7 linked regions of the Homo sapiens genome follow. The protein of the gene in region 1 purifies or fractionates together with the protein of each later gene. This does not show direct contact. Each region holds a gene or a part of one and is shown in the gene's direction. Other genes may lie near its edges. The genes, in order: CMTR1, NT5C2, EXOC6B, MAP1B, PHF6, IARS1 and HNRNPR.

Evidence for each region.
Region 2: the proteins of CMTR1 (region 1) and NT5C2 purify together in Homo sapiens (affinity purification with mass spectrometry, with the first as the bait; one large-scale study listed by BioGRID). This does not show direct contact.
Region 3: the proteins of CMTR1 (region 1) and EXOC6B fractionate together in Homo sapiens (co-fractionation; one large-scale study listed by BioGRID). This does not show direct contact.
Region 4: the proteins of CMTR1 (region 1) and MAP1B purify together in Homo sapiens (affinity purification with mass spectrometry, with the first as the bait; one large-scale study listed by BioGRID). This does not show direct contact.
Region 5: the proteins of CMTR1 (region 1) and PHF6 purify together in Homo sapiens (affinity purification with mass spectrometry, with the first as the bait; one large-scale study listed by BioGRID). This does not show direct contact.
Region 6: the proteins of CMTR1 (region 1) and IARS1 fractionate together in Homo sapiens (co-fractionation; one large-scale study listed by BioGRID). This does not show direct contact.
Region 7: the proteins of CMTR1 (region 1) and HNRNPR purify together in Homo sapiens (affinity purification with mass spectrometry, with the first as the bait; one large-scale study listed by BioGRID). This does not show direct contact.

The regions. Positions count from the first base shown.
Region 1 is NC_000006.12:37,470,719-37,475,051, forward strand, and holds part of CMTR1 (cap-specific mRNA (nucleoside-2'-O-)-methyltransferase 1), read left to right. Parts: intron 1-302; coding exon 303-359; intron 360-1,128; coding exon 1,129-1,186; intron 1,187-1,700; coding exon 1,701-1,769; intron 1,770-2,751; coding exon 2,752-2,883; intron 2,884-3,805; coding exon 3,806-3,928; intron 3,929-4,333. UniProt on the Homo sapiens protein: S-adenosyl-L-methionine-dependent methyltransferase that mediates mRNA cap1 2'-O-ribose methylation to the 5'-cap structure of mRNAs.
Region 2 is NC_000010.11:103,190,013-103,194,935, reverse strand, and holds the start of NT5C2 (cytosolic purine 5'-nucleotidase), read left to right. Parts: upstream 1-1,663; 5' UTR 1,664-1,700; exon of another isoform or gene 1,701-2,530; intron 2,531-4,923. UniProt on the Homo sapiens protein: Broad specificity cytosolic 5'-nucleotidase that catalyzes the dephosphorylation of 6-hydroxypurine nucleoside 5'-monophosphates.
Region 3 is NC_000002.12:72,815,724-72,820,056, reverse strand, and holds part of EXOC6B (exocyst complex component 6B), read left to right. Parts: intron 1-4,333. UniProt on the Homo sapiens protein: Component of the exocyst complex involved in the docking of exocytic vesicles with fusion sites on the plasma membrane.
Region 4 is NC_000005.10:72,204,975-72,208,474, forward strand, and holds part of MAP1B (microtubule-associated protein 1B), read left to right. Parts: intron 1-109; coding exon 110-265; 3' UTR 266-3,500. UniProt on the Homo sapiens protein: Facilitates tyrosination of alpha-tubulin in neuronal microtubules. Phosphorylated MAP1B is required for proper microtubule dynamics and plays a role in the cytoskeletal changes that accompany neuronal differentiation and neurite extension.
Region 5 is NC_000023.11:134,389,722-134,394,054, forward strand, and holds part of PHF6 (PHD finger protein 6), read left to right. Parts: intron 1-3,779; coding exon 3,780-3,913; intron 3,914-4,187; coding exon 4,188-4,231; intron 4,232-4,333.
Region 6 is NC_000009.12:92,283,114-92,287,446, reverse strand, and holds part of IARS1 (isoleucine--tRNA ligase, cytoplasmic), read left to right. Parts: intron 1-828; coding exon 829-911; intron 912-1,607; coding exon 1,608-1,725; intron 1,726-4,333. UniProt on the Homo sapiens protein: Catalyzes the specific attachment of an amino acid to its cognate tRNA in a 2 step reaction: the amino acid (AA) is first activated by ATP to form AA-AMP and then transferred to the acceptor end of the tRNA.
Region 7 is NC_000001.11:23,340,927-23,345,707, reverse strand, and holds the start of HNRNPR (heterogeneous nuclear ribonucleoprotein R), read left to right. Parts: upstream 1-1,423; 5' UTR 1,424-1,497; exon of another isoform or gene 1,498-2,134; coding exon of another isoform or gene 2,135-2,197; intron 2,198-4,687; coding exon of another isoform or gene 4,688-4,699; coding exon 4,700-4,781. UniProt on the Homo sapiens protein: Component of ribonucleosomes, which are complexes of at least 20 other different heterogeneous nuclear ribonucleoproteins (hnRNP). hnRNP play an important role in processing of precursor mRNA in the nucleus.

The DNA.
Region 1 (4,333 bases):
GAATCTGGGCTTTGAATGAGCTCACCACTACTTTCAGATTATTTAAGGGTGGGATTAGAAGCTTCCTTTTAGTAGGACTTGGGATCTAAGAACTGAGTGACCCAGTTTTCCTGTTCTACCCTCATCCTTCAGTAAGCCCCACATAACTGCACTGTGGGGTAGGGGTGTGGGTTTCTTTCTCAACTCTCCAGCTCCTTCACCAAATATAGATGGCCACTGCTCCCGTTTAACCTCTCTGTCCTGATGTCAGTTACCTGTCTTTTTTGGTAATCCTGAGATCAAATAATTTTTTTTTCTTCTAGCCACTGTAGTCTGCAGATCAAAGCTCTGGCGAAAATCCATGCCTTTGTTCAAGACACGTGAGTGTTGCCCACTTTTCAGAAACCACCTATTTCAAGGGAAGATCTTGCTTTTCCTCCCCACAAGCTGTTTGTTTTTTTCATTTCAACAAACATTTTAAAACACCTGCTTTTTTCTCATACTCTGCTATGGTCTCTGAAGGATGCCAGAGAAGCATATGACATGAGCTTTGTCCCCAAATACTTTACATTGTCTTTGGGCAGATAAGAGTAACCCAGGAAAAGGATACAGGAAAGGTTATTAACAGTGCATCAGAGGGTGTAGAGTGGCATGGCACAAGTAGAATACATAATGTTCAGGGGACACAGAGTAAAGAGTGATCAAGAGAGGAGAGGTAGGACTGATCAGAGAAACCTCGGGTAGGGGGTGAACATAAGCTAATTCAGCTTTGTGGGGCATGGTGACATCCAGTGGGATGGGTTTAGTGTGGCCTGTGTCAGCAGAAGAGGAGCTAGAACATGCTGATGGGTGATTGAAAAGGGTGTCGGGGAGGACCCTGGCATCCAGGTCGTCTGGAGGGCACTTTCTCCTTTCCCATTGTGGTGAGAAGGGCAGGTAATCCCATTTCGTGTATGTTTGAGCTCCTGTCTTCAAAAGGAGAGCCTTGCATGTGTTGTAATCACGCTGGGCCAGTGGCAGCATAGTGTCTGTGTGTACACTCACATGTTCATTCATTCAGGCCTCCTCTCTATGGGATATGAGGGGTGCACAGGGGGCACTCCTGTGCCTCTTAGAGATTTTAATCACTAACTGGCTTCATATTCCCAGGACACTGAGTGAGCCTCGACAGGCAGAGATACGGAAGGAGTGCCTCCGACTCTGGGGGGTGAGTATCTCCCCCGCCCATTGCTGCTTCAGGGCAGGGAAGCCATAGAGAAGAATGGGGTTGACTCCCAATCCTGTCACCTTAGGGTGTCTCTGCATCCAAAAATATCTGCTACCCTCACAGCATCCCAGAGGTTGACATCTCGGCATTGTTGGTAGTTACGTCCTTGGCCCTTTCACTGCTGGTTTGGCCCTGCAGCTGGGTCAGAAAGGACTAAGGGGTGGGGTGTGGGGAGGTGGGCCGGTGTCAGTTTTGCAACTGGTGGCCCCTTGTAGCAGCACTGACAACAGAGAGCCCCAGAGAAAAGGAAGTAGCCTTTGGGGTCCATTGCCACAGGATCTGAAAGGGAGCAGTGAGTGAATTATCCACCTCCATCCCTGTCAGCCTAGCCTCCTTTGTTGTGTGCCATTCCTCCTCCCCAGTCTGACCCTATCTCCTCCACCTGCATATACTCATACACGGTCTTGGTCAAAAGGGCATTTGAAAGTCAAAGCTCTTTGCTGTCTTATTTCAGATCCCAGACCAGGCTCGTGTGGCTCCTTCTTCCTCCGACCCTAAATCGAAGTTCTTTGAGCTAATCCAGGTAAGACTGGTATCTGTGGTGGACATAAAAAGTTAGAGATCTGTCTCTAGATGTGGATGGTATCACTGAGGCCCCAGATGCATGGTCTCCAGAGGGCTTGTGCAGATGCCCACCATGGGCTCTAAGGGGCGGAGCTAAGGCTGCCACAGGTGGGAACCTTTGGTATAGGGTGTTGAATTCCCCAAGAGCACAGTCAGGCCAACGGAAGATTCTCATGTTCAGTGCTTGGGCTCAGCATTCCTGCCACCCAAAGGGTGGTTCTGGCTGTGTCACCCTGGCAAGTTCAGGGTCCTGTGGGATTTGCCTACAAAGGAGACATAGAGTGTGGGATGATCTTAGGCAAGGGAGCTGGGCACAGGGTGAAGGGAGCTGCCAGGGAAGCCCGCAGCAGGGTTGGCCTAACCCCAGGTTCTTTGTCTTATTTCTGGTGAGCTGGTCCTCAGAGTTCTTTTGCCCTGTTTCTTCTACCACTCAACCTCCAGCTTTTACTTGGGCCTCATTTAAATCTGTCCCAGATCATGGGCAATTGTGCTGGTTTTGTGGGGGTCAGGGAGTAGAGACTGAGGTTCAAGATGCCCTCAAAAGAATAGTATGTGTACATTTTTCTAAATGGGGTAAAGAGATCACTAAACTGTTCTCAAACCAACTGCTGGAGAATCCTTGCTTTGAGTTTTATTGAAGGGGCAGCTTTTATATTCTGGTGACATTTTCTTATAGGTCTGGTAAATTGATCTGTACTTGGGGACTCAGTGTTCTTTCCTTTTCCAGCCTCTCCTAATAGGTCCTACAGGAACATTCCAAGCAGATGGAAATAGATCCCATTTAGTGCACAGTTAGGTAGAGAAGGGGGTGCAGGGGAGCATATTTCAGAGAGCCAATGCTTCCTGTCCCTTGCCTTGTCGAGCCTGCCCCCAGCCCAGATAGGCACCCATACTGTCCCTTCCCCCAACCCGGCAGTGTTTTCTCTGACTCGTGGCTGCAGGGCACTGAGATTGACATCTTCAGCTACAAGCCCACACTGCTCACCTCTAAAACCCTGGAGAAGATCCGCCCTGTGTTTGACTACCGCTGCATGGTATCTGGCAGTGAGCAGAAGTTCCTCATCGGCCTGGGGGTAAGTCTGCAGCTGGCTTCCTGCCCAGCTTGGAATGGTGGATTTGCCCTTTGCGGAATCTGGACAGCTGCCTGCCACACTTGGTACATGTTCTCTTGGCATTAAGTAGCTGTTGCTTTGACCCTAGTGAAGGTATTTCTTGAAACTTCGTTTCCTTTCTTCCTCTGAGTTTGCCAAGTGTCATTCATTCATTCTTTCATTTGTTTCTTCAATTCTGTGCATTGCTAAAGGGAACACTGCTACTTTTCTTGTGATACAGAGCTTCCCAGGCTAGCAGAGTGGTCAGCAGGCTTATCTGGCTTGAGCCCAGGCAGCCATTCCTTTGCAACACCACCACCACCCCATGCCATCCCATCCCCTGTCTTGCAAAGATACTCCCTGTCCCTACCCTGGGCCCCCTGGAGTCTAAAGTGAGGTGAGGGAAAGCCTTGGCAAGCTCTTTATCTTACTTAACTGGGTAAAGTCATTGCTTTTTCTTTCAACTCTTGACTTGTGTTTCTATATAATTTGATCCTGTCTTCCTCAGTTACTTCTTTTGTACCCTCTCACACTTTGTCTTTTTCTCATTTTACTTACTCTCTCCTTCTCTGCTCTCTGGACTCTTCACTAAACCCACCTTAGACATATACGAAACTGGATCTTTTTTGAGGGCCACTAATTATGGACTTAGGTCTTTTGAGTGGTGCCCTGCACCCGTTCCAAGGCTGAGCCAGATCTCTGCTTCTCTTCTGCTGAGGCACTGGAGAACACTACTATCATTATCACTAAAGTATAATGGATTTAATCTCTCATAGACATTTTCTTCTGACATTTCCCAGTCCCATCAGTTTGTAGCTGCCAACTAAAAGCTCTTTTGAGAAGTAAGCCTCTTATCCCTCGATCTCCATGCCTTCCTTACCTGGCTGTTTCTCTCTGCCTGTAGAAATCCCAGATCTACACATGGGATGGCCGCCAGTCAGACCGCTGGATCAAGCTAGACCTGAAGACAGAGCTGCCCCGGGACACTCTGCTATCTGTGGAAATTGTGCATGAGCTGAAAGGGGAGGTCAGAGATGGTTCTGCTCAGGTGTTGGCCCTGCAGCTAGGGGACTAGGGGGCTGCTGAACCTGGCCTTTTGCCCTGAGTTAACTTGGTTACATTGTGTGGTGGCTGACAGGGCCCAGGGCTGGGGTAAGGGTTTATAATGACTCCTCCCCGAGCAGTTGCTCTAAGCCACAGTGGTTCAGGTAAGGAGGAGCGCAGTCTCCGTGCGTCAGAGGAGACCTCGATTGTCTCTGTGCATTGAGGGCCCTGGTGAGTCTACTGGGTATTTTTTAGCAGCTGATTTAGTTTTTGACCAGAGATCCCTTGGGAAACAAGAGACTTGTTTCTCAGGAGCCATGAGTATGAAATCTATATGGTGACATTCAGAACAGTCAGTAGGAGCAACTGGCAAGGGGGGTAAGCCAGA
Region 2 (4,923 bases), on another chromosome or scaffold:
TTTTCGTTTCTTCTTTTTTTTTTTTTTTGGAGATGGAGTCTCCCTCTGTCGCCCAGGCTGGAGTTCAGTGGCGTGATCTTGGCTCACTGCAACCTCCGCCTTCCGGGTTCAAGCGATTCTCCTGCCTCAGCCTCCCGAGTAGCTGGGACTACAGGTGCGTGCCACCATGCCCAGCTAATTTTTGTATTTTTAGTAGAGATGGGGTTTCGCCATGTTGGTCAGGCTGGTCTTGAACTCCTGACCTCAAATGATCCACCTGCCTTGGCTTCCCAAAGTGATGGGATTACAGGTGTGAGCTACCACGCCCCGCCACCCTGGCCTTTTTTCAAATGCACTTGGTTTAAAGATTGTGTTATGCCAGCTTCCAACCCCTATTCCTCTTTTCCATATATCCTGAGAAATTTAGAAGGTGAGGGGCCCAAGGTCTATCCTTAGCTGACCTGAAGCGAAGTTGGCTGAGAAGCACAAGAAGGGGTAGAAGTGCTCTGGCGGAGCACTTATTAAAAAGACGCGGAGGTTTTGGTTGACTGCAAGCCCAATATGAGTCAACAGTATGGGTGCCAAGAACTTTATCGCAGGAGTGCAAAGCGATAGGTCCCAAAAGGAGGAAGCTATAGTCCTGCTTTGCTCTGATGATACCACAAACATTTGGTTCAGTCTTGGGTGATGTATTCTAAAGAAATCACAGTCAAATCTACCATTTGCGTGAGAGGGATAAAGACCCTCAAAACCAGGGCAGAGGAGGAACAATGGAAGGAACGGGAGACACTGATGTGGAATGAGAAGACCTTGGGCAGAGGTGATAGAAGTAAAGTATCTGAAAAGTCAAAGGTCCAGGAGAGATTAGACGTTTGTTCTCTGTGGCTCCAAGGCATCGAATTTCGGCCCTGAGAGTGGAAGTTTAGACACATTTTCTCACTGGTGAGAGCTGCTCGGACCAAGGAATTCAGTCCTCTGGAAATAGCTAGCTGCTTTTGCGGAGTCTTCCTGCTGAGTTGCTGGTGGTGGGGTGAACATTTATTGAGTGCTTACTGTGTGCCAGGATCCTGCTGAGGGCCTCACCTATATTGTGTGATTTCATCCCGTCAACACCCTTTGATGTGGGGACTGTTGTTCCCTATCCTGGTGCTACAAATGTGGGCACCAGGTATAGGAGGTCAGGTACCTCGCCCGAGGTTACAGTTTGTAAGTGGTGGTACTGGGACTGGAACTCGTTCTGACAAACTTCAAAGCTGGTGTTTTTAGCCATCAAGGGGATTCGAGGGTGCCATGGGGGTGTGGACGCATGAGGGGCCTTGAGGTCCATTAGACCAAAACATTCTGTGACTGGGAAAAAGGATGCCCTCTCCTCCCAAGGAAAAGCTTCTTCTGAATGAGACACAGTGGAGAGGTTAGCCCAGGGCCAGGCTGAGGGGCGCAGGCAGAATGCCAAGGGATGGAGACCCTCAGAAGGGCAAAGCCGGTGTTCCATCGTTTGAAGATCTCCAGACCCGCGGGACAGACAGACGCAGCGCGGTCAGGGAGCGTCGGCTTCGCCGAACTCTGCGGCGGAGCTGGGGGACGGAACAGCGCGCCGGTCCCTGGCCGGGCGCGAGCAGAGGGGCGGCGCGGGGCGGTGCCGGGCGGCGGGGGCGGGGAGGGCGCGCGTTGAGGCGGCTGCGGCAGTTGCGCGCTGGGATTGTTGCGGTGCGCTGGAGCCGGTGAGTGCGGCGGGCCCCGTGGGCGGGCGGGGAAGGAGCGGGCGAACGGGGAGCTAGGTGGGGAGGTGCGCGGCCGAACACGCGACCCCAGGGTAGCGGCCGCCGCCTGCCCCCGCCCCCGGCCCCCAGGGACCATGGCCCCAAGGCCCCTCTCCTTAGGCCGAGTCCCCGCCAGCGCGCTCGCGGACGCCGCACGCCTCCCAACTCCCTCGGTGCGGCCCCCGCCCCACGGCAGCCCCTTCCTCCGCGCCGCCGCGACGCCTCCGGCCCACGTCACGCTCGCGCCATTGTTTCCCAGCCGCCGGCTCGCTGGGACCCCGCCTCAGCCTCCCAGCGCGGCCGTTCGCCGCGTTCCGCCCTCTTCCCCCCTTTCCTCACGCTGGTGGTAGCCCTTTCCTCAGTCCTGCTGACGTCCTCCAGCTGATTCCAGGCTGTTCCCGGCCACCCCTGAGGCCGTCTTTTCGCTTCTTGTAAAAGCCTCCCCGCCCCCAGAGCTCCTCGGTCGCCTCCCGAGAAGCCAAGGGGCCTCTGGTGGAGCGCCAGGTTGACAGCGTTTTAGCAGGACCGCGAGAAACGGCCAGCTCGTTTGCCACACGCCCGTGTGCAACACTTCCTGGAAAGGTCACAGCGAATTGCAAGCCGCCACAAAAAACATCCGGACAGCTCCTGGTCAGGGGGCTGAGCCGTTCAGTGGCGGCCTATTCTTCTCCTTTTTTCGGGGCTCCTGAAATCGGAGAGGGCGAGATGCCGATCTGAGGCCTGAACCCTTAGTTTAAGAAAAACGTTTTGGGGGTTTGACTCCGGCAGGCCACAGCTTCTAAAAGCAGCAGGTAGAGGCTGCTGTCCGAATCGACGTTTTCCTGGGCTTTCACCTTTAGGGCCTTGATGTTTGAGGGGGGTCGTGCTCTGAAGTACAGCGCCCCGAAATGACTAGTCACCATTACAGGGGGGTGTGTGCGCGCCCGTCCAGGGGCCGATGAGTTCTTCAGGATTGAGCTGTACTTGGTTCCCAGTGTCTGTAGACTATTCATTTCGCCTCTTCAAGCAACGAATGCAAACTACTGACCATAATGTGAAAGGGAGAATATTGAAACTGTGTCATTTACCATGAAAACTTAGTGTTATTGCGTAGAGAAGGCTTTAGGTTTCAAAAATATTTACCACATGGCTTTTCAACAACGGTTAGAATTTATCCAGATGAAGACATCCAGGCCTGAAAGGGTGAAGTTCGAAAAGAGAAAAAAAATAGGTGTGAGCTGAGAGTGGAAAAAAAAAAAAGAACAAAAAAGGTTAAGTTCAAGAAAACATAGCTGGTTAGTAATTAAAATAAAAACTCCACATGCAGGGTTGATACTAGCATACACAGACTTATTTCTGAAGTGCATTTCCATTGCAGTGTAAACCACTACATTTCAACAGTATAGGTAGCTGCATTACTCTCATTGACCCAGAATTAAGGTTTTAGGATTTAGTAACCAACAAATCTGTAAAATAAGGTGGAGGGGCGCGGGGTGGAGTGGGGGGGGTTCTGAAGGAGATGTTATGCAAGATTCCTTTCAGTTCAAAGGTTTGATGCCATTGTATGAAAATTTACCATCAGCTACAAGTTTTCAGAAGTTTGTAATTGTAAGAAGATTTATATAGATAGTATTCCCTTATAGTACCTGCCACCCTTAACCAGAAGACATCACATCTTCCTAAAGAAAGCCAGATTACAATAGAATGTTAGGCACAGAGGTGCTCATTAATCTTTCTCTAGGCTATTTCTCCTGTTTTATGGGGAAAGAGGAGTACATAAAACACAGGTTTTTTTTTTTAAGTATTTCCTCTCTCTCTCTTTTTTTTTTTTTTTTGAGACGGAGCTTTGCTCTTGTTGGCCAGGCTGGAGTGCAATGGCATGATCTTGGCTCATTGCAACCTCCACCTCCCGGGTTCAAGCAGTTCTCCTGCCTCGGCCTCCCGAGTAGCTGGGATTACAGGCATGCGCCACCACGCCTGGCTAATTTTGTAGAGACGGGGTTTCTCCAAGTTGGTCAGGCTGGTCTCGAACTCCTGACCTCAGGTGATCTGCCCGCCTCGGCCTCCCAAGTACTGGGATTACAGGCTTGAGCCACTGCGTCCGACCCTGTTGCTTAATTCTCTTACCAAAAGCTTAATTCAGTGAAATAGTAAATAACAACAAATCCCCAAAAACAAAAACCCACAACTTTGTCATGTTATGACTGTGCTCTTTTAAAGTACTTACATAGACTGGTTTTTATCTAGTACACTTGCTGTGTACATATTATTTGGGATTTTGCTCTTACCAATATTTCTGGGATGTCCATGTATTTAGAGAATTCATCTAATCTTCATTAGTAGATGCTCTCTAATGTGCCCCGGTAGTCAACAATGCCTGGCACACAGGCTCTTAGTAAATTTTTGTTGAATAAGTGTTGTAATGTTTTGAGGTTTTTAGACATTTAACACAAAATACTAACTATCACAAGGCATATGTTGAGTGACGTGAGCAGTAAAGGCAGTCATACTTTCAGCCAGGAGACATTGCATTTATTTAAGGGCCCGGATTTTGTAGTCTGGCTTGCTACTTAACATCATGCAACCTCGGGGAACTCAGTTAACCTTAGACAAGCTCACTCAGTTTCTCTCACCTTGAGAAGGGAAAAATAGAACAAATTTTACAGAGTTATGTGGATTAAATAGAATAATTCAGTTGAAGTGATACTGGCACACATTAAGTTCTCTATAAATGTTAGTTTTTTTTGCTCAGAGTGAAGGAATATTAATGTAGCTTGGTGGGATCAGGAAAAACAGTAACACTTCAGAGTAGGGAGAAGATGCTGAAGTGGATGTATTGAGGGTATGATTAATAGATTGTTCTCACTAAAAGGGTTTGGTAGAGCAGTAGTCTGAGATAAAACTGGAAAGAGAAATTCTGGTAAGCAGTTTACAAGTATGCTACATGGATTCTTTGCAATTAGAGCGGAGTGAATGACCACCTGAGGTCAGGAGTTTGAGACCAGCCTGGCCAACATGGTGAAACCCCATCTCTACTAAAAATACAAAAATTAATCAGGCGTGGTAGCGCATGCCTGTAATCCCAGCTACTTGGGAGGCTGAGGCAGGAGAATCGCTTGAACCCAGGAGGCGGAGGTTGCAGTGAGCTGAGATTGCGCCACGCACTCCAGCCTGGGTGACAAGAGTGAAACTCTGTCTCAAAAAA
Region 3 (4,333 bases), on another chromosome or scaffold:
GCTCTTATTTTTCCATCCAGCACCCTCTCCCATTAATTCATCTTTACAGAGATCAGTTAATCATAATCCTTGGTTCGTGACACTTTCTCATTATAGGTCCATGGCTCTCTTTAATAAATTAAATCAATTTATTTTTATAAGCAACTTACCACCCAAGTGGGCAATTTTTTCTCATCTAAAAAGTGATTAGAAAAATGAAGATAAAGCATCCTTCATGGTACAATGCAAGGTACCAAGCTAGGACTACTGCCTAGCAGGTAGCATGAATGATGCTTTCTCTCTCTCTCTCTCTTTTTTCTTTTCATACTCTTCCTCCAATGTAGATGGGGTGCCATGGTACCTGCTAGGCATTGGTCACTCAAGTGTGAGTCATCTTCCACCTTTACCCTTGGGTTTGCTATGTGGACTTAAGTATTTCTATTTTTTGAGTTTTGTTAGTTTAGTGGTTAGCCTATTTTTTTTGTTTCCTTTTCCTGGTCCCACATATCTAAGGGATATAATACTTATCAATAATCAATCCTGGGAGGGGTTATTTTGGGGTGGAGCAGAGAAAGGAGGAGGAGATAGGAAATAAATATATAAAAGCCCTTCAGGTGATTGTGATATACTCCGTCCTTGACAATCACTGAGGGGAAGAACATTCCCATTGCTCATGCTTATTTTTTAATAGTAGTGCCCTTTTAAAAATGACATTTTTATATTTTAATTATAAATGTAATAGAATGACTTAAGAAGAAACAACAACAAATAACTTAATTCTATTACCTTTCCACCACTTTTATATTTTTATATTTCCTCTTAACTTTTTTATATGCATGTTATTATATTAAATATTAGATGATTATTATGTGTCTTGCTTTTTCAGTTAACATGTTATATACAGGTTTATACATTATAATGATGTCACTTTAGTGGCTTTATTAATGAATTGATTCATTCATATATTCATTCAATATTGAGCAATGTCTATGTGCCAGATACTCTTCCAGGCTCTGGGGTACAGCAGGCAGCAATATAGACAAGTCCCTATCCTTATTGAGCTTATAGAGTCCGGAGTGGGCACTTACAGAATAAATGAATAAATATATAATGTAGTGCTATTTAGCGATTAATGTTACATAATGACTGGGTTATTGCTTTCAATTAGGGGATTAGGAAAGGTAGCTTTGGCAAAGGTTTGAATAGAGTGAAGCAACAAGCCATATGGCTCTCTGTGAGGGAAATACCTTCCATACAAAGGGGACAGTAAGTGCCAAGGCCCTCAGGAAAAGGATAACGGTGGGAAGTGGTGGTAAGAAAGTAGTCAGGGTCCAGATCATGTAGACTAAGAAAGAGACTTTGATTTTATTCTAAATGTTATGGAAAGGTACAGGAGAGTTTTTATTCTGAGCATTATGGGAAAGTACAGGAGAGTTTTGAGCAGGAAAGTGACATGTGGTCACTTAGATTAAACAAGGAATGTGGCCAGGTACAGTGGCTCATGCTTGCAATCTCTGCACTTTGGGAGGCCAAGGAGGGCAGATCACTTGAGGCCAGGAGTTCAAGACCAGCCTGGCCAACATGGTGAAACCGTGTCTCTACTAAAAATACAAAAATGGCCTGGCACGGTGGCTCACGCCTGTAATTCCAGAACTTTGGGAGGCCGAGGCGGGCGGATCACGAGGTCAGGAGATCGAGACCATCCTGGCTAACATGGTGAAACCCCGTTTCTACTAAAAATACAAAAAAAAAAAAAAAAAAAAAAATTAGCTGGGCCTGGTGGCAGGCACCTGTAGTCCCAGCTACTTGGGAGGCTGAGGCAGGAGAATGGCGTGAACCTGGGAGGCGGAGCTTGCAGTGAGCCGAGATCGCGCTACTGCCCTCGAGCCTGGGAGACAGTGCGAGACTCGTCTCAAAAGAAAAGAAAACAAAACAAAAATTAGCCTGGCGTGGTGGTGGGCACCTGTAATCCCAGCTACTCAGGAGGCTAAGGCAGGAGAATCACTTGAACCCAGGAGGTAGAGGTTGCAGTGAGTGGAGATCGCACCACTGAACTCCAGCCTGGGCGACAGAGCGAGACTCTGTCTCAAAAACAATGACAACAACAACAACAAACAAACAAGGAATGTTCTGGCTGCTGTGTGGAGACAGAGTAAGAGAGGAAACAGGGAAACCAGTTAGGGGATGTTTGCAGTAATAAGAGGCAAGAGATGGTTATGGCATGCAATATGGTAATAGGGAGGAGGTGATGAGAAGTAGCTGGATTTAGAATATGTTTTGAAGGTAGTGCCAAAACGATGGATTAGTTATGGGAATTAAAGAGAGGATCAAGGATGATTCCAAGGCTCTTGGCCTAAGCAATCAGATGATGGTGATGCCAATTATTGGGATAGGGAACAATAAAGGGAGGAACTTTACTTTTCTTTGAATAACTTATTACAGCCTGACATTTTATTTTTGATTGTCTACCCTGTTGGAATGTCTGTTCAAGGGGGGAAGGGATTTTGTTTCTTTTGTTTGCTGCTGTATCCTGGGAACCCAAAGGGTGCCTGGCATATAGTTGGTGCTCAGTAAATATTTGTTGAACGAATAGAAGAATTAAAAAATTGTATCACCAACTGTTAATTATCTGGGAATTAATTAACTGATTTGCAGATTAACTGTCTTAAAAATATGACTTCTTTTTGAGAGAAAATAAAACTAATGAAAATTTCAAAAGCCTCTACATATCAGAAATGTTTTTTATAACTACATATAACTTTATAGTTCTTCTTTCTCTTCATCAGTCAGAAGTGTAATCTAAAATAATTTTTAAAAAGCCTGTCATTCCTCAGTGTTCTTTGTAGTGCTGTCAAAAGTTTGCAGGTTTAAGAATAGTAACTCTAATGATGAAAGCATTATGATCTGAGTGCATGTTATATAAATAAAGCTTAACATTTAGCAAAAAGTTGAAATTGTACATTTGGGTAAAAAGGGGTGGATAATGTTAAATAAGTTTCATTACAATATGGAATAGGAGAATAAATTTTTTTGTGGTTTGATAAAGAGAAACTTGTTTTTAAAAAATGTCCTCATTGAGTTATCAAGCAAACTGGAAAAATGAAAAAATTATGAAGAATCTGTGGCTAATAAGACAATGTTGATTTGGTTCAGTTAGCTAGCAATGGGCTCTGTGTTTGATTTTGTTTGAGTTAAATAGACAACAATTTTCATTGAAGCTCTTCCAGTGGAGGTTATGCTGATTTGTTATCTGATTGATTAGATTCACACCACAGAAAAATTAGTAGCCATAGAGAGAAATTAAATGGGAGTGTAGCATTTGCTAAGTATTCCTGTATTAAATTTCAAGAGTTTGTTAGTTATCATCAGATCAAATATGTAATTCTGAGGAACCTGAGCTCCTGGAAATCTTATCTACTGTAATTTTGAAAATAAAAAATGATATAGGTAAATTATCTTGTGTGGGTTTGAAATATTTTATTTAAAAAGTGGAAAGAAAAGGATATGAATCATAGATCTAACAAACATTTTTTGTCTCATTCCTTCTATTTCCCCATTTTATTCGTTTGTTGTTTATTCTTCCATTGCTTTCTTATGCAAATAGGAGCATATATTATCTTATTTTCTCCTTTTTACAAAATAAATAGTGTTATTGTATAGACTTCTGCAGCTTAGTTTTTTAGTTATACATATATTTTTGAGATTTGTCCATATCAGTATATAGAGGTTTTCCTTATTTTTTTTAAATAGCTACATAGTATTCCATTATGTAAATATATCATGGTTTATTAAACTAGTTCTGTTTCTGGATATTTGGATTATTTCCAGCCTTTTGCCAGAAAAAATAATGCAGGAAGGGATAGCCTTGAATATTGGTCATTTTTTATTGCACATTTCTTTTTTTATTTGTTTTGTTTTTGAGACGGAGTCTTGCTCTGTCTCCCAGAGTGGAATGCAGTGGCGCAATCTCTGCTTACTGCAACCTCCGCCTCCCGGGCTCAAGCGATTCTCCTGCCTCACCCTGGCGAGTAGCTGGGATTACAGGTGCCCATCACCACGCCCGGCTGATTTTTGTAGTTTTAGTAGAGAAGGGATTTCACCATATTGGCCAGGCTGGTTTTGAGCTCCTGACCTCAAATGATCCGACCGCCTTGGCCTCCCAAAGTACTGGGATTACATGCCTGAGCCACTGCGCTAGGCCTATTGTACATTTCGTACTGTATCTATAGGATAGATTCCCACAAGTAAGATTGCTAAGTAAAATGATGAATATATCTGGAATTTGGTAGGTATTACCCACTTTAGAGGTTGTACCATTTTGTTCTCCCTCTAGCAGTCTATGAGATTGCTCATT
Region 4 (3,500 bases), on another chromosome or scaffold:
CTCTCATTTCCCTTCTTCTTCCAGTGGTCTAATACCTTGCTATTCAATTTTTTTCATATGGTTTCTGTTTCTGCCCTTAAATAGCTATTTTTTTTTTCTCTCCCTGCAGGTGACACTGATCCCAACTCATGACTCAGAAGTGATGAGGGAATGGTACCAGGAGACCCATGAGAAACAGCAAGATCTCAACATCATGGTTTTAGCAAGCAGCAGCACAGTGGTTATGCAAGATGAATCCTTCCCTGCATGCAAGATTGAACTGTAAAAACCAAGGCCAGCCACACCACAGGATCTGAACTTTGTTTCCAGAAATTCTTCAATTTGAAATCACCTTTTCTAAAAAGTCAATTCATCTAGTTAAGTCGCTGAACAATTACCTGCCAAATGCTATACTGTGTCATGGTGATGCAAGTCACTAAATTTCTCAGTTTTTGCTGATTGCTAAGGGAAATAACAGTATTTCCACAATAGGGTTCAAATTCCTGCAAAATTACCTACCCCAGTTCATCTCTGCTGAACATTTGGAAACCATGCACTAGCCAACCCAACTGACTTCTGCTAGGTAGAGGCATTTGTCTTAGAGAGAGAGAGAGCGCGGGAGAGAGTGAGAGAGAGTGAGAGCACAAAGATAACGCAGGAGAGAGAGAGAGAAAGAATGAGAAAGAAAAGGAATGCAAGAGAAGGAGATGTAATGACAGAGAGTTCTGGTGAGATACCCAGAGAGAAAAAGAGAGAGCAGGGTGGGGTAAGGAGGAGAAAATAAACCAACAATTAGGTCTGCATTTTCTCAGGCAGTAGGCATTCTTTAGTCTACATAGGCAAAGTTTTCCATTTTTGTCAGTCTGAGTCATCAAAAAGAGTCTTAATTTTCTAAAACAAGTTGGCTAGAAGAAAGTAAAAAGAACAACACTTGTTATGAGGGCATGTGATATTTTCACATCTTAATTAAGCTCCTTCAGTTTGAAGGCTGCACACTGACATAATGTAGTGAGTGTAGACTGGCCATGCAAGTGGTTTGGGCCCCATTCAGAACTCTCAGACTCTAAACACACAAGTAGATTGATCTAAGGCATGCTCCCAGCATTTGTCCACCCACTTAGTCCACTCTGAGTCGATTAACCTGCATGCAGCAACACCCAAGTCCACCCCAATTAACTGAAGCAAATACCAAAGCAGTTGGGAGTACATATGGTAGACAATTTGCCTTAGGAAGTGACTTGAATGTACAAAGATACTTGATGCACTTATTTTTTAATGTGAGACAGCAAGTTTATAAAACATCCATATAGGATTATAGATACTTAAAGGAACACGTGGGTGAGCGTGTGTGGGGGTACTAGAAGCTGATCTGATTGGTCCAACAGTTTGATGCTGAGTCATGCGTGTTGAATCCCACTTCAGTGCACCTGTGGCCTCTCAGTCAAACAAGTTGTGCCTTTCACAGCTTCTTTACTACTGCAAGTTCAAGACTGAAATGGCTTCTATGATCAGAACTGGGAAAACAGTGAATCTTATGGTGGAAGAGGTTCTCAGCAAGTGTACAGTATTTACCTTCCTTTGTCTTACATTGGCTTTTTAAATTTTCCATTAATTTCAACATAATTATGGGAACAAGTGTACAGAAGAATTTTTTTTTTAAGATATGTGAGAACTTTTCATAGATGAACTTTTTAACAAATGTTTTCATTTACAGGAAATTGCAAAGAAAATTCTCAAGTGATAGTCTTTTTTTTTAAGTGTTTCGTAAGACAAAAATTGAATAATGTTTTTTGAAGTTCTGGCAAGATTGAAGTCTGATATTGCAGTAATGATATTTATTAAAAACCCATAACTACCAGGAATAATGATACCTCCCACCCCTTGATTCCCATAACATAAAAGTGCTACTTGAGAGTGGGGGAGAATGGCATGGTAGGCTACTTTTCAGGGCCTTGACAAGTACATCACCCAGTGGTATCCTACATACTTCTTTCAAGATCTTCAACCATGAGGTAAAAGAGCCAAGTTCAAAGAACCCTAGCACAAATTTGCTTTGGGATTTTCTTTTCTGGAAAAAAAAAATAAAAGAAATAGTACATTGAAAACAAATGAATTCTCAACTCCTACGGTTCATGTAGAGTTTAGAGAAAATTTCCATCATTGTCATCATTGAACTGTGAACCTGGGAAGCCAGATCATGATTAACACTGACATCAAGTTTCAAGTTGCAGATCAATGCACCCAGTGTTCAGATGAGGCAAACTTCTCCGTGACAACTGTGCTGTGCTCTGTCACATTACATTTCCTGCAGACTCTAAGATCTACGGAGTAGAGAACAATGACCTCATTTTATTTTCTATGTTAGTTATTTATTTCAAAATTAACATTTTAGTTGATTTTTGTCTGATAAGTCTATGTTTTGCACTGCTAACTATGATGAGGGTTTAAAAAAATGCTTCTTCAGGGTCCTTTCACTGAGGACCTATGCAGTCTACTTAATGCTGTGAATTACATTTTTCAAATGTTTAATTTTTTAAAGAAAATTAATATTCTATTTTTGTTAGGCTTCTCTAGAAATGCAGCTTTTATTTATTACCCCATTTCTTTCAAGTCCTTGGAAAATAACATATTAAGGGTACAAGAAATTAACACATGATGGAAAAGTCATTGTGACGCCAATGAATTTCATTGAGTATAAACTCATCTACTTCAAATTTATTTTATAACACAACCTAAGATACTCAAGATAATTATTTAATGGTTAGCTCTTAAGTTGAATTGGTCTACATAATGCGTGGGAAGAAAACCAGATTTTTAGCCTTCTTGCCAAATCCAGACCTCTGGTTGATTTTTCTTTGACAGAAGATGCAAGTTATTTTCCAATTTCACAATTAAATGTATTTAACCTGAACATTATTTTGCTTTAAAAACTATAAACATTGTAGGAGAATTATAGCCAGTCTTCAGTTATAACCACTCCACCCTCCTCACTTTCTCTCTCTCTCTCTCTTTTTTTTTTTTTTTTTTTTTGCTATGGGATTTAATGGGAAAAATATGTAAAAACTGTCACTAGTCAGCTGGCTCTTTTTCCTATGAAATCTATCAGTACCTTTCTCCATCCGTTGTTCTCAATATGACCACAGAGCCTGAGTATACCAAGAAAACCAATATTCGCATTACAGGTTGCTCCTGTCCTTCCAGACACCTTTCCTGCCTGTGTGACTAACCTAATTTTGCTAGTTCCATAAATACACGATTAGTTTAGTAACAGCCATCACAATGTACCATGTACATTCATGGTGAGAGCTAAAGATCGACACAGACTTCTAGGAGCTTTGTTCATACTGATTACTTAATCCAATTGTATAGATTGAATATTTGAGTGGAAGGAATTTACACTCTGTTTAAATGATGGGATTCTATCGAGATAGCACTCATGATCATGACCTTTTTGGTAGTATTCTTAAACAAAATTCTACAGAGACTAAATGTTAGCGATGATCCTCCATTTTCAATTTTAA
Region 5 (4,333 bases), on another chromosome or scaffold:
CATTCTTGCCACGTTCATTCTGTGCTCCTCCAACTGGATTGATCTCCCCAATTTCACCATTCCCAGTCCTAGATCAGAATGTTTAAATATTTTTAGAAGTAGCTGAAGATAATTATGTTAAATCTGCAGGTATTAGAAACATGAATGAGAAAAAATATGCCATAAGATTAAGATCTTCAATAATAGAGTATGTTTGCAATGACATACTTACTGAACAGTACTTTGTAAGGCACAGTGTTACTCTTCAAAAAAAAATTCTGTCTAGAATGAATTGATTGATAAAATTTATGTATTTATAATCAGCCATATAATGGAGTAAAATGATAAGAGCCAAAATGAACAGTATATATCTTGAGTCCCATAGGAGTTTAGAGAAAAAGGATTATTTTAGAGGTTGGAATATAGCATGGTAGACTAAGATAATTTTCCCTTTTTGTATTCATAGGTAAGCAAGCAAATGTAAACATTGTATTTTGGCTTTATTATGGATAATTTTTGCTATTTTGTTAGTACCTTGCCAGAAATTTGACTGCTTGTATGTGAATGCTGCATAAAATAGGTCCTGGGAATTCTAATTTAGCAAAATTCCAACTCCTAACCTTGTAAAGAAGTTTCCACTCCGAAAATATTTTTTATTGGTATGTCTTCCTCTTTCTTGTCTTTCTTGAGTGAAACTGACTATAAAAATAAAGTAAGCTTTAAAAAAATTATCTGTCCTGAGTTGCTGTAGTTAACTGGTTATTTGCAAAATGCATGTATTTCACCATAGCAGCTTAAAACCAGTTACTTTGGGCAGATTTAAATTTATAACCAGCCAAAAACTATTTTGGTATATTTTGGGTTTTTGGTTCCCATCTTATTCTCACCAGACTGAGAGACGGGTATTGAAAGCATTTACTAGAGTTTTCCTAATTTGTTTTTTAAATAATATTTTTGCATATAAAAGTACTTTTGCCCATTGTAGAAAAATCAAAATACAGGGCATTATGAAGAAAACCAGCCACCCAGAGATAGCCACTTAGCATTTTGCTGTTTTTACTTGCACCTGTTTTAAAGAATCTATGTTATAAACATAGTTGGGTTCATAATTCACATAGTTTTGTATCCTGCCTCATTTTTTTTAACTTAACATTACACATAGATCTTCCTGAGCCATTCCAATTTCTTTGAAAAGAGTGGCTGTAGAACATTCTCTCATATGTGTATACTATAATTTATTTAAACATTTTTCTTTTTCTTTTTTTCTTTTTTTTTTCTTTTTTTTTTTTTTGTGATGGAGTTTCACTCTTTTTGCCCAGGCTGGAGTGCAATGGTACAATCTCAGCTCACCGCAACCTTTACCTCCCAGGTTCAAGTGATTCTCCTGCCTCAGCCTCCCGAGTAGCTGGGATTACAGGCATGTGCCACCACACCTGGCTAGTTTTGTATTTTTAGTTGAGATGGTGTTTCTCCATGTTGGTCAGGCTGGTCTTGAACTCCTGACCTCAGGTGATGCGCCCGTCTCAGCCTCCCAAAGTGCTGGGATTACAGGCGTGAGCTGCTGTACCCGGACCTAAATATTTTTCAATTGTTGATAGGTGGTTTTACATTTTAGACTGTTCTAAATAATTCTACAATGAATGTGCTTGTGCATTAATTGCTTGAGTGTGATTATTTTTTAGACTAGGTTTATAGAGTAAAATTACTGGCTTAGAGAATACAAATTTTTTAAAAACCTTGTTGAATAAGGCAAATTGCATTCTAGAGAGTATGTACCAATTTCCAGCTGTATACAACAGTGCCCATCTTAACTGTATCTTGTCAATGTTGAGCTCAATATAGTATTTTAAATGGCACCTCTCTTTTCAGTTTTGCTCGCTAATTGAATTTAATATATTTTTTTCAAAATGTACCCATCTAAACCTGTTTTGGATGTAAGTTTCAAGATAAACTACTTTCCCTAAAGTTCTTAGTGAAGTGGGATAATGTTTGATGCGTTAAAAAAATAGATTGCAAAATAGTATGTGTAGAATTACGTTTCACTAAGCATTGTAACACTGTGAGGCATCTCTGCTTGGTGAGTATGAGTGATTTAAAATTTTTCTTTGTGCTTTTTTGTTTTCCAGAATTTCTTTAATATAATAGAACTTTGTAATTAAGCTACAGTTCAAATGCTGTACCTCCTTAAGAATTTATAAGCCATCCAAAAGCTTTGCCTTCTTGATAATTTGGCATAGTATTTCTTTTTACAGTAATACTTTGAAGTTTCTGTATTTATTTAAGGAAGAAAGGGGTATTTCTTGTATCAATAATGGGCACTGGCCCTCATGTTTTCTGGGAAACAGCTGTAGTGAGACTGTTTCTGTTTCTGACATATGAATATTTTTTAAATGATAGCCTGAATGAGAGTTTTAGTGTTTGACTTGCTTAGAGAAATGTAAGAAATTTTATTGGAATTTATATTAGCCTCTTGGTACACCAATATTGCTTAGAGGCCGAGTAATCCAAAAGTTAGGAATGCTAAGTGTTCTTTATGTTCAAATTAATAAAAAGAGGGATGAGAACACTTTAGAACAAGGTGTCCAGCAACCAAGAAGCAAATGAACAGTTTTTTAGATTTAGCTTGTTGTGAATCTATTTTGGCATGTCATGTACAGTTAAATGGCCTCATTATAAAAGTTCACTTGGTACAGTACATTATGATATGTTAATCAAAACCACTGAAAGTCATTGTTATGTAACTTTTTAAAGATAACTTTTTTCCTAAATGTAGAGCATGAGCTAGTTAATCAATATGAATTATCCATTAAATTCAAAAGGTAAGGTATAATAAAATACATTGAAAGAATCTGTTCTTTTATCTGTTTGCCTGAATTCATAGTGCAAGAGGTAAGTGACATAGATTAAATTGAAATACTGTGCATATTTTCATAATATAATCAACTTGACATCACAAAATAGTCTCAGAGCTCAAGGTATTAAAAAAACTACCTAATTCTTTCACCTTGTCTCCTTCCCTCGCTTTAAATGGATTTTACTAGGTTCTCAAATAGTAAGTTATGTGAGATATTTTTCCCACAGAGTCTCATTAATTAAGTGGATTTTTTTTTTTTTTTTTAGACGGAGTCTCGCTCTGTTGCCCAGGCTGGAGTGCAGTGGCACGATCTTGGCTCACTGCAGCCCCCACCTCCTGGGTTCAAGCAGTTATGCTTCAGCCTCCCAAGTAGCTGGGATTAGAGGCATGCGCCACCACACCCCAGCTAATTTTTTTGTATTTTTAGTAGAGATGGGGTTTCACCATATTGGCCAGGCTGGTCTCAAACTCCTGACCTTGTGATCTGCCTGCCTCTGCCTCCCAAAGTGCTGGGATTACAGGCATGAGCCACCGCACTTAGCAATTAAGTGGAAATTTTAAGGAAAACTTTTTTTTTCTGGTATGAGACATTTTCTCCAGTTACTTGTACCTAGGAAGATCTGGATTACATAAAAAGTCTCTTTTATAATGTTATATACAGCTCACATTCCTGAATTACAGTATTTCAAATTTTCTCTTGACCATAATGAAACAATAGACATTAATAACATTCTGTTAATTTTGTCAGTGTTTAACATGGGAAAAAATACCCCAGAAGAATTTTATTCCGGTTATTCTAAGGAGAGAAAACAAGAAAAGTAGCATTAATTACAAAACTTTTCAATAACCAATTTGTTTTCCTTGACAGAAATTGATATGCCTCTAATCTGATATACAGCCTTAGAAAGTCACATACTAATAATATTATTTTGTCGTTTTGCTGTAGATGTGTTCTTTGTGCCATTGTCCTGGAGCAACAATTGGTTGTGATGTGAAAACATGTCACAGGACATACCACTACCACTGTGCATTGCATGATAAAGCTCAAATACGAGAGAAACCTTCACAAGGAATTTACATGTAATTATTTAACTTCTCTTTAAGTTTTTTTTTTAACAATAATACTTTCTTTGGGCTTTTGTAAAAATTTTTCCCATTTCAAAGCATTTCATCATCATCATAAAGGGTGTTTTTGATAAGAAATTTAATACTTAGAGAAATAGTACAGGAAGTTTAATAATATATTTTGAATCCAGCTAGTGAATTGGGTGAAGTGTACTGCTCGTTTTCTTAATTTGAAAAGTGAGTTTAATTTAGTTTGCTTACTAATTTTTGATTTCTTCATTTTTTATAGGGTCTATTGCCGAAAACACAAGAAAACTGCACATAACTCCGAAGGTACATCATTTAGCCACGTTTCAGCCACTTTTCAGTTTCAAGAAGAAATTTGAGTACAGATTAGTGAATTATACTATATTAATTTTAACCATAAGACATATC
Region 6 (4,333 bases), on another chromosome or scaffold:
AGTAGTATGATGGGTTCCCCTATATCCTTCATCCATCTTTCCCAGCTGCTAACATCTTCGGTAACCATAATATTAATAGAATTTTCAAAAGCAGTTGCCCCATTAATTTTTATTTCTGACCAATCACATATTGCATTTGGTTGTCATGTCTTTTTAGTCTTCTTAAGTATGGAACATTTATTTAGTCCTTTGTATTTCATGGCCTTCTCACTTTTGAAGATTGCAGAACAGCTATTTTCTATAATGTCTCTCAATGTGTGAGGTTTCCTGATTTAATTTAGGTTATGCATTTTTGGTGACAATGCCACAGAAGTGATGCTATGCCCTTCTCAATGCATTATATCAGGTGGCATGTGTTGCGGCTATGTCACATTGATGGTGATAACTTTGTTCACTTGGTTAAAGTGCTGTCAGCTTTCTGCTTTGTAAAGTTGTAGTTTTTCCTTTGTAATTAATAAGTATCTTGTGGGGAGATTCTTTCCAAATATTCTTTTTTTTGTCATACATTCACTTATTAATTTTAACATCCATGGATGGTTTTTGCCAGTAATAATTATGCCTGTGATATTTGCCAAGTGGTGGTTTTGGTAGACTTTTATAAGTGAATATTTATACTTGTAAATAACATTTTGTGCATGTAGGATGAATGCCGAGAAAACTGGTTCTTAACCTTACATAATATGTTGTTGGCAGTATAGATTTACTTGTACCATTGATTATTCTGTTTTCCCAAAATTTTCATTTGTGATGACAACAGAAATAAACACACATTGATGTACAATTATAAATATCATTGTCTAATACTGTTCTAATATTAATATTTTAAAGTCTACTGTTAGCAGACTTGGCCGATGGATTGACTTTGACAATGACTATAAAACTCTGTATCCACAATTCATGGAATCAGTCTGGTAGGTTTATTTAAAATTGTAAATATGGTAAATATTCTATTCTGTTGTATTGATAATTGGAAAAATGCACTAGCATGAATCAGTTTATTTTTGAGTCCATCGTTATTTCTCTGAAAATCTTTGGGAACAGGTTTGTTTTTGAATGTAGAACTTTTATTTTTATTTTTTTGAGACTGAGTCTCGCTCAGTTGCCCAGGCTGGAGGGCAGTGGCACAGTCTTGGCCCACTGCAACCTCCGCCTCTCAGGTTCAAGCGATTCTCTTGCTTCAGCCTCCCAAGTAGCTGGGATTACAGGCGCCCGCCACCATGCTTGGCTAATTTTTGTCTTTTTAGTAGAGATGGGGTTTCACCTTGTTGGCCAGGGTGGTCTCGAACTTCTGACCTAGGTGATCCATCCACCTTGATCTCTCAAAGTGCTACGATTACAGACGTGAGCCACTGCGCCCAGCCTGCCAGTTGCTTTTCTTAACATTATGTGTTAAATATCATTCGATATCAGTAGATATTAGCATTTTAATGTCTGCCTGATGTCTTACTATATTGATCTGTTATAATTTACCAGCCAGTCTCCCAATGAAAGACATTGTTTTTTCACTTATTTGGCAGACAGAAACTCTAAAAAGAAAATGGCATAAATGTTTGCATTTTCAGAAATAGAATTTTGTTCTGTAATTGTGAAACTCCATCTCTTACCAGGTGGGTCTTCAAACAACTCTATGATAAAGGCCTTGTTTATAGAGGTGTGAAAGTCATGCCCTTCTCTACGGCATGTAACACTCCACTTTCCAACTTCGAGTCACACCAGAATTATAAGGTACGTGAAATGTAGAGACATTATTCAGCATTGAGTTTTGTAGGTGGAAGCTGAGTAGTTATGATCACAGTAGGTATTCCCAAGTAGACCCAGTGTGGAATGTTGCCCACGACATCCACCACTTTGACCACTTCTTACTGAGTGCTGGAAATATTGCCAGTTAGTATACTAAGGCTCTGTTAAGATGAGGGATTTTTTTTCCACATTGGATTTATGATGTGTCTTAATGTGATAGGTTTTGCTTGTTTTGACCATATTTTTGTGCCTCTCTGTTGGGTTAACAAGTCCAGCTTTGACATACTTCCTGTAGTCATCGTTTCTTAAGGGTTGAGTAATTTTATGCCTTATCTGGGACCTCATGATATCATTTATTTGTTAACGGTATTTGGAAAAAAATTAATTTGAGATGCCAAATGGTATTATTTTTCCTCTGATGAGATAGAATCAGTTGTTGTTGTTGCTATGATTGAGGTGTTTAGACATGTTTGATGTTTACAGAGTGTATTGTTATACCATATCTAGACAGATATTATATACTAGTAAGTCTTCTGAAATGTGAACCATCTCTTCTCGTGTGTATACTGAGTTGTTTTCAGTTTTGAGAGTTTATCTGACCCTCTGTTTTTAAAGGATGTTGACTTGTTTGGAATTCTTGTTTCATGGCCTAGGTTTGAAAATTACATTAGTAAAATTTGCCTTTCAAAGCACGTTTTATTTATAGAATGCTTTCACATATCCTGTTTGATTGATCTTTGTAAATCCTTGTAAGGCAGGTATGATGATTTCTATTATCTCCTTACCACCTCTCTGTGCTCATGTTTGTATTTTTTTAGTAAAATATTTTAAGCACTTAACAATGTAGAGAATGATATGGTAAACACAAGGTTTCCAAGGCTTACCTTTGTCAAATCTTAATATATTGCTATATTTGGTTTTTGTTTGTTTGTTTGTTTGAGTCAGAGTCTTGCTCTGTCGCCCAGGCTAGAGTGCAGTGGCGCGATCTTGGCTCCCTGCAACCTCCACCTACCCGATTCAAGCAGTTCTTTGCCTCAGCCTCTGGAGTAGCTGGGTTTACAGGTGCCCACCACCACGCATTTTTAGTAGAGACAGGGTTTCACCATTTTGGCCAGGCTGGTCTTGAACTCCTGACCTTGCGATCCACCCACCTTGGCCTCCCAAAGTGTTGGAATTACAGTTGTGAGCCATTGCGCCCGGCCTGTTTGGTTGTTTTTTAAAACACTTGAATGTGGACAGTTTCAGGGACATGCAAAAGTAAACAGAATGGTATAATTAATTTCTGTAGGCCCATTAAGGCCCCCAGCACCAATGACTGGCTAATCTTGCCTCATTCATACACATATTCTTTCCCACTTTCCTTCCAATTCTGAAACAAATTCCAGATATCATATTATTTCATCAAGAAATAATCCAGTATAGATCTTTCATAAATAATCTTTATCTTCTTTAAACATTGCCATGTTAGCATTCGTTGTCACACCTTAAAAAGTCATCAGCAGTTACCTTTTTGTTGTTGTTGTTGTTTTTGAGATAGGATCTCGCTATGTCACCCAGGCTAGAGTGCAGTGGCACGATCTCGGCTAACCACAGCCTTGACCTCCCGGGCTCAAGTGATCTCCCCTTTCAGCCCCCTGAGTAGCTGGGACTACAGGAACATACCACCATACCTGGCTAATTTATGTGTTTCTATAGGAGTGGTTTCACCATGTTGCCTGGGCTGGTCTTGAACTCTTGGGCTCAAGCAGTCCACCCGCCTTGGCCTCCCAAAGTGCTGGGATTACAGGTGTCAGCCACTGCACCTAGCCACCTTTAATAGTTTTTATTTTAATATTCTCAAATTATGTAATTCCTGAACATCATCAGTTCATATTTCTAATGGTTTAATCATTTCCCAAGGGGTTATATTTTATTTTTATTTATTTATTTTTTTAAATCAGGATCTACCAAGACTTAAACACATGGTGACTGTTGTCTTTTAGGTCTTGTACACGTTTCAGTTGGTTATATAACAAGTAGTGGAATTATCGAGTCAGAGTATACTTTGTTTTAATTTTTATTTTTTTGAGACGGAGTCTCACTCTGATGCCCAGGCTGAAGTACAGTGGTGTGATCTTGGCTCATTGCACCCTCCTCCCAGGTTCAAGCAATTCTCCTGCCTCAGCCTCCCGAGTAGCTGGGATTACGGGTGCCCGCCAGCATGCCCAGCTAAGTTTTGTATTTTTAGTAGAGACAGGGTTTCGCCATGTTGGCCAGGCTGGTCTTGAACTCCTTACCTCAGTTGATCCACCTGCCTCAGCCTCCCAAAGTGCGGGTATTTTTACAGGCGTGAGCCACCACGCCCAGGTGAGTCACAGAGTATACTTAATTTTTAGTTCTAATACTGAGGTTGGGAAACTTTCCTCTGCAAATTAAATATTTTAGGCTTTTCAGGCAAAGTGTTCTCAATTTTGTCACCATTCTTAACTCACCCACTGTATGAAACAAGTGATGAGCCAGATTTGGCCCAGGGGCCATGGTTTGCTGACCTCTATTCTACGCGGTCTGTATATTGATTGTTAACCAAGGGTTTTTAAAATTTTTTTGACTTGAC
Region 7 (4,781 bases), on another chromosome or scaffold:
AAGACGGAGTTTCGCTGTTGTTCCCTAGGGTGGAGTGCAGTGGTGCGATATTGGCTCACTGCAACCTCCGCCTCCCGGGTTCAAGCGATTTTTCTGCCTCAGCCTCCGGAGTAGGTGGGTTTACAGGCACGTGCCACCACACCGGGCTAATTTTTGTATTTTTAGTAGAGGCAGGGTTTCACCATGTTGATCAGGCTGGTCTCGAACTTCTGACCGATACACCCGCCTCGGCCTCCCAAAGTGCTGGGATTACAGGCATGAGCTACCACGCCCCGCCCGTTTTCAATAATTAAATATAGGTTTGTAGGTTCTGAGAAATTTAATCATCCTTGAGTGCATCTGGAAATCTGCAGACCACTGCTTGACTTCCTCCACTTCCTAAGGGTGGGGCATTGGAGTTTGGGGTTGGGAAAAAAGCGCTTGCACCACAGAAGTGAGTTCGGAAGGTTTCTATGAGACGAGACAGGTTTGGACTAAGGACAGGGAACAAATCAGTAGGAATGGCAGGTGAGAAATAGGTTTAGGACTAACACGAATTATAGTGTCCTTTGGGAATTACCCCTTTCCCCTGCATGGCTCTTTTGGCTTCAGAGATGTATATAGCTGCTTTATTTTATGAATATCAAGTAGCTCCAAACCCTGTGGGGAAAAGCTCCCTGCTCTATCACTTGTGTTACACATTGCTTTTGAGTCATTTTAACGATTTCCCTCACAGTCTGCCACCAACGATGTGTGGACGGCAGCCAGGGAGGGAAAGAGGCATTTCTCCGATCGTTCCAAGGAATGATTATCTAGACAAAATCCTCAGCAAAATGACGAGCCAAATCATCCTTAAATCGTGTGCTCACTAGAGGCGAAAAGATGACCGAAAGAGGCCCGAACGCGTGGCTATGGGCGTGTCTGGGGGGAACGCCGGCCGCGGGGGTGCGAGGGAGGACTCGGGGGCTAAGGGCGGCCGGTGGCGGGACGCAAGCGCCATGGCGGAGCTGGGCCAGTGCTGACCATAGGGGGCGGGGCTCCGGAGGCGGCCACGCGGCGCGAGGCCTAGATTTTCGGCCTCGCATCGGCGGCAGACGAAGAGGGAGGAGCTTCGTCCACCCAGGACCCAGCGCCCCCAAGCCTTGCAGCCACCAAGGGCTTCCACCACAGACCCCTTTGTGTGCCTGCCCCCGCCCCGGAGGCGCCCCAGCCAGGGGCGCTGAGCACCCTCATTGGTTCAGCCGGCAGCTTCATCGATTGGCTCTCGAGTCGTCCGGCGTGGTCCGTTTTGCCTGGATACTACTGGTCGTCTGAGCTGCCTGTCAGGCCGCCTCGCCAAGCGATTGCCCCGTAGCTCGGAGTCCCTGGAAGCAGTTCCGGGAAACCCCGCGTGCTGCCGGGATCGCGTCTCAGTCCATCAGGGGGGGGAGGGGGTGGCGCGCGCGCCATTTCTAGTCGTTTTCAAAGCGCCTCGCGCTGATTCTCACGGGCCCGGCTGCCGGCCCCCGCTCTGCCCTGGTGAGTCTCGCGCCGGCCCGTGGGGGGAGGGGCCGGGAGCCCCGATGCGACCCGACTCAGCCCGGGCTCCGTGCCTGGTCCCGTTTCGTTTGCGCTCCGAGGCCCCGGGGTGGGGGTGGGGACGGGCTGGGGGCGGCTTCGGTCTAGTCCGCCCGCGCGGCTGTGGGCCTAGCCCGGCCGAAACGCTTCTCGCCCTCGCTCTTCCTCCCCCCGCCCCTTTAGCCCGCGGTCCGGCCCGCTGGGCGCTCTCCGCGCGGCCTGCTGGGGCCGGCCGTGCTTTTCCCGCCTCCGCTCGCTGCTCCATGCGGCCGGATCCCGCGAAGGGCCTGAGGCGCCCGCGGCCCTGCCGCTTCTCCCCGCCGGAGCCGCTTCGCTCCCGCCGCGGCCGGCCTAGCCCGAGAGGGATGTGCTGATGATCCGGACGGGCCTGAGGGGATGGGGGTGGGGGGCGGAAGGCGGGGTGCAGATCCCAGGGTTATCTGAGCCGGGAGAAAAGTTTTGTGTGAGCAGAAACCGAAAGGCCGATTTGTGTGGGAAGCCTCCCTCCCCTCCCACATTCTGCATGCCGCGGGCTGAGATTTGAAGGAAAAAATGACTACTAGAGGCCGTAGAACTTAGGCTCCAAGCGGCGCCTGAAATGGATAATTCTGAGACTGTCAGAGGCGCACCAAATTGGAAAGGCGATCCTTTTTCTTACACGGTAGTGGCCGTATTGCCAAATTTTTAAAAAAGCCCAGGGCTTCTTGGAAGGTTCAGTCCTTTCACACTACCTGTTTGAGATTTTTGCAGTCCTCAAGTGGCTGAATTGATGTCTCATGAGTCAGTCGTAGGATGAGAGCTCGACACTCCTAAGCCATGAGATAACCGTTAGTCTCATTTCGTTGGTTCTTTTAAAGCCCGTCTCTTAATATGAAGAATTTGCACAGAGAGGTTCAGAAAAAGTCAGGGAGGAGTTAGTGCTGACATCCCGAATCTCCCAGCAGCCCTTTTAAATCTTTAAATGTCTCCTTTTTTTTTGCAAAAATGTTTAGATCAAATGACTCCAGTCACGTTAGTATATTTGCTGCATCCAGAAATATGGTTTGGCTGTGTGGCATTGTGTTGAATGCCACATTTGAATGAGTTTCAAATGGTCTCATATGACATAAAAAGTCTTTTCAAAATGAGCATTTTGTATTTGGCTTGAAGAGAGAGGGCTTTCCTTGATCCGAAGGTTTTATTTTCTGGAATCTAATTATTTTACGGTTTTTTTGTTAAAATTTACAAACTTTTTTTGAAAATTTTAACCAATTTCAGTATCAACTTGTAGAGCCTTTGCAATGAAATGGTAGGCATAAATATTTCTGTCTTGTACTTAATACACAACTTGTCTTTTTGCTTTACACATACTTAAAAACCCCACCTTAACAGATGTTCATTGAACTTTTCTGTTAAAAATTTGCCTCTTTTCTGTGACTGATAGTATTCCTAGGTACAATGCTGTAAGGGTCTTGTGATACTGAGAACTTTTGAGTTCTGATGATCTTAAGGTAGTATGTGGGGATGGGGGAGCATGGGAAAACAGAACCTTATGTTCGCAAGGAGATTTTGTGTTTTAGGATGCATCTTTATAGAAATAGGTCGTGTTAATCAGTAAACGTATTCATCTCACACAATACAGTTTCTTGATCAAAAGTGTGACATTTCGAATGTTTCCGTTTTTGCTAGTTCATCAGAATTTGAAGCTTGTCTTGAGAAACATCCACCCAGAATTTAACCACAGTCTGCGTCTATTAAGGGCTATCGAGTCTTAATAGTGTTTTGTAATTGTGAGGAGTCATGTTTATCTCATTTTCAGAGTAATCCTTTGCATTTTCTTCTTCTTCCTACTCTCTATTACCTCCTTCCCCTCTTGGTCTTCCTCCCTCTTTCGTTAACTTCAACTAAGTATCAGTGGACTTTGAAATGAAAAGAAGTTGTTTTAAGCCAGAAAACTGCACCTGGTGCATTTGCACAATGTTCGATAAGCTGTCGGGAAGTGTGGTTATCTTATGTGTCTTAGTACTTTGTAGGAGACTTGTATTTTCTTTATAGATGACTAGGTATCTTGAGTTTCATCAAGAAAAGTAGGCTTTTTCTTGAGATCCACCTTTATGTCTTTTATTTAGTATGTGTTGCAATGTCTTGTTCTGCTGCCTATTATCTTCATCACATTGTAATTTCACCACAGACAAATGCACTTTAATTCCCTGTCTTTTGAGGCAGTACACAGACTGGCCTTGTATGGTTTATTGTTTACTCTCTCTCTTCAGGGAGTCAGTCCATTTCAGCATTACCTACAGGCTGAATGTACAAAATTATTTTTGATAGGTTAATCTGAGAAATCTGGCTGAAGTTTAGCCTAATTAGGTAACGGTTTTTGAAATATTTGGAAGAAGTTGTCCATTCTTCAGTATGTTTTTACATCTTTATTTTACTGATATGAAAATTTCAACATGTACTCTTTTTTTTTAAGAAGCAACCTAAACTATAGCTCACTTAGTATTTTATTTGGACTGAAAACAATTGTTTCGCTTTTAAACTTGGTCATTTTTTCTTTTAAATCTGTGGGAATAGCGAATTAATCTTAGAACAAAAATTAATGTCAAGTTGGTTTTTTTTTGTTTTCGTTTTGTATTGTTAGGTGGAGAAAACCCAAACCACCAGCATGTTGAACTAGAGAAAACAGGGCACTTATTTCACACCGATACTGTATTTGAAGCAGAGCCAGGAAAATTTGAAAGTCCTTAAATCTTGATTAAGTGGTCTGTGGGTGTTCATTCTGTTTTTAAAACAAAACTTTTTAAAACTGTGTAAGACCCGAGAGCTGAGGGGCTTTTTAGTAAAGGATTTTGTAGTGATTTTGATCTTTTCACCAGGACAGAACAGCTGCTTTTGTTAATCAGCAATTCTACCTTCAGTAAATTAAAGCCTTTATCTTACCCGGTGTACATGAAGTTCCTTAAAGATCTAATGCTTCCATGTACATTTTCTATGGTTTTACAGGATTATTATTGCCAATTTAGGTCAGATACATCACAGGAGGAATAAATTATTATTTTGATAGAGGTTATTAGCAGCATGTATACAAATTAGTTTAGATAAATCATGCATTGTCCTACAAACTAGTTATTTCTGGCTTAATGTAATATAGCTCCTGAATTTTTTCCAGCAGCATAATAAAATGGCTAATCAGGTGAATGGTAATGCGGTACAGTTAAAAGAAGAGGAAGAACCAATGGATACTTCCAGTGTAACTCACACAG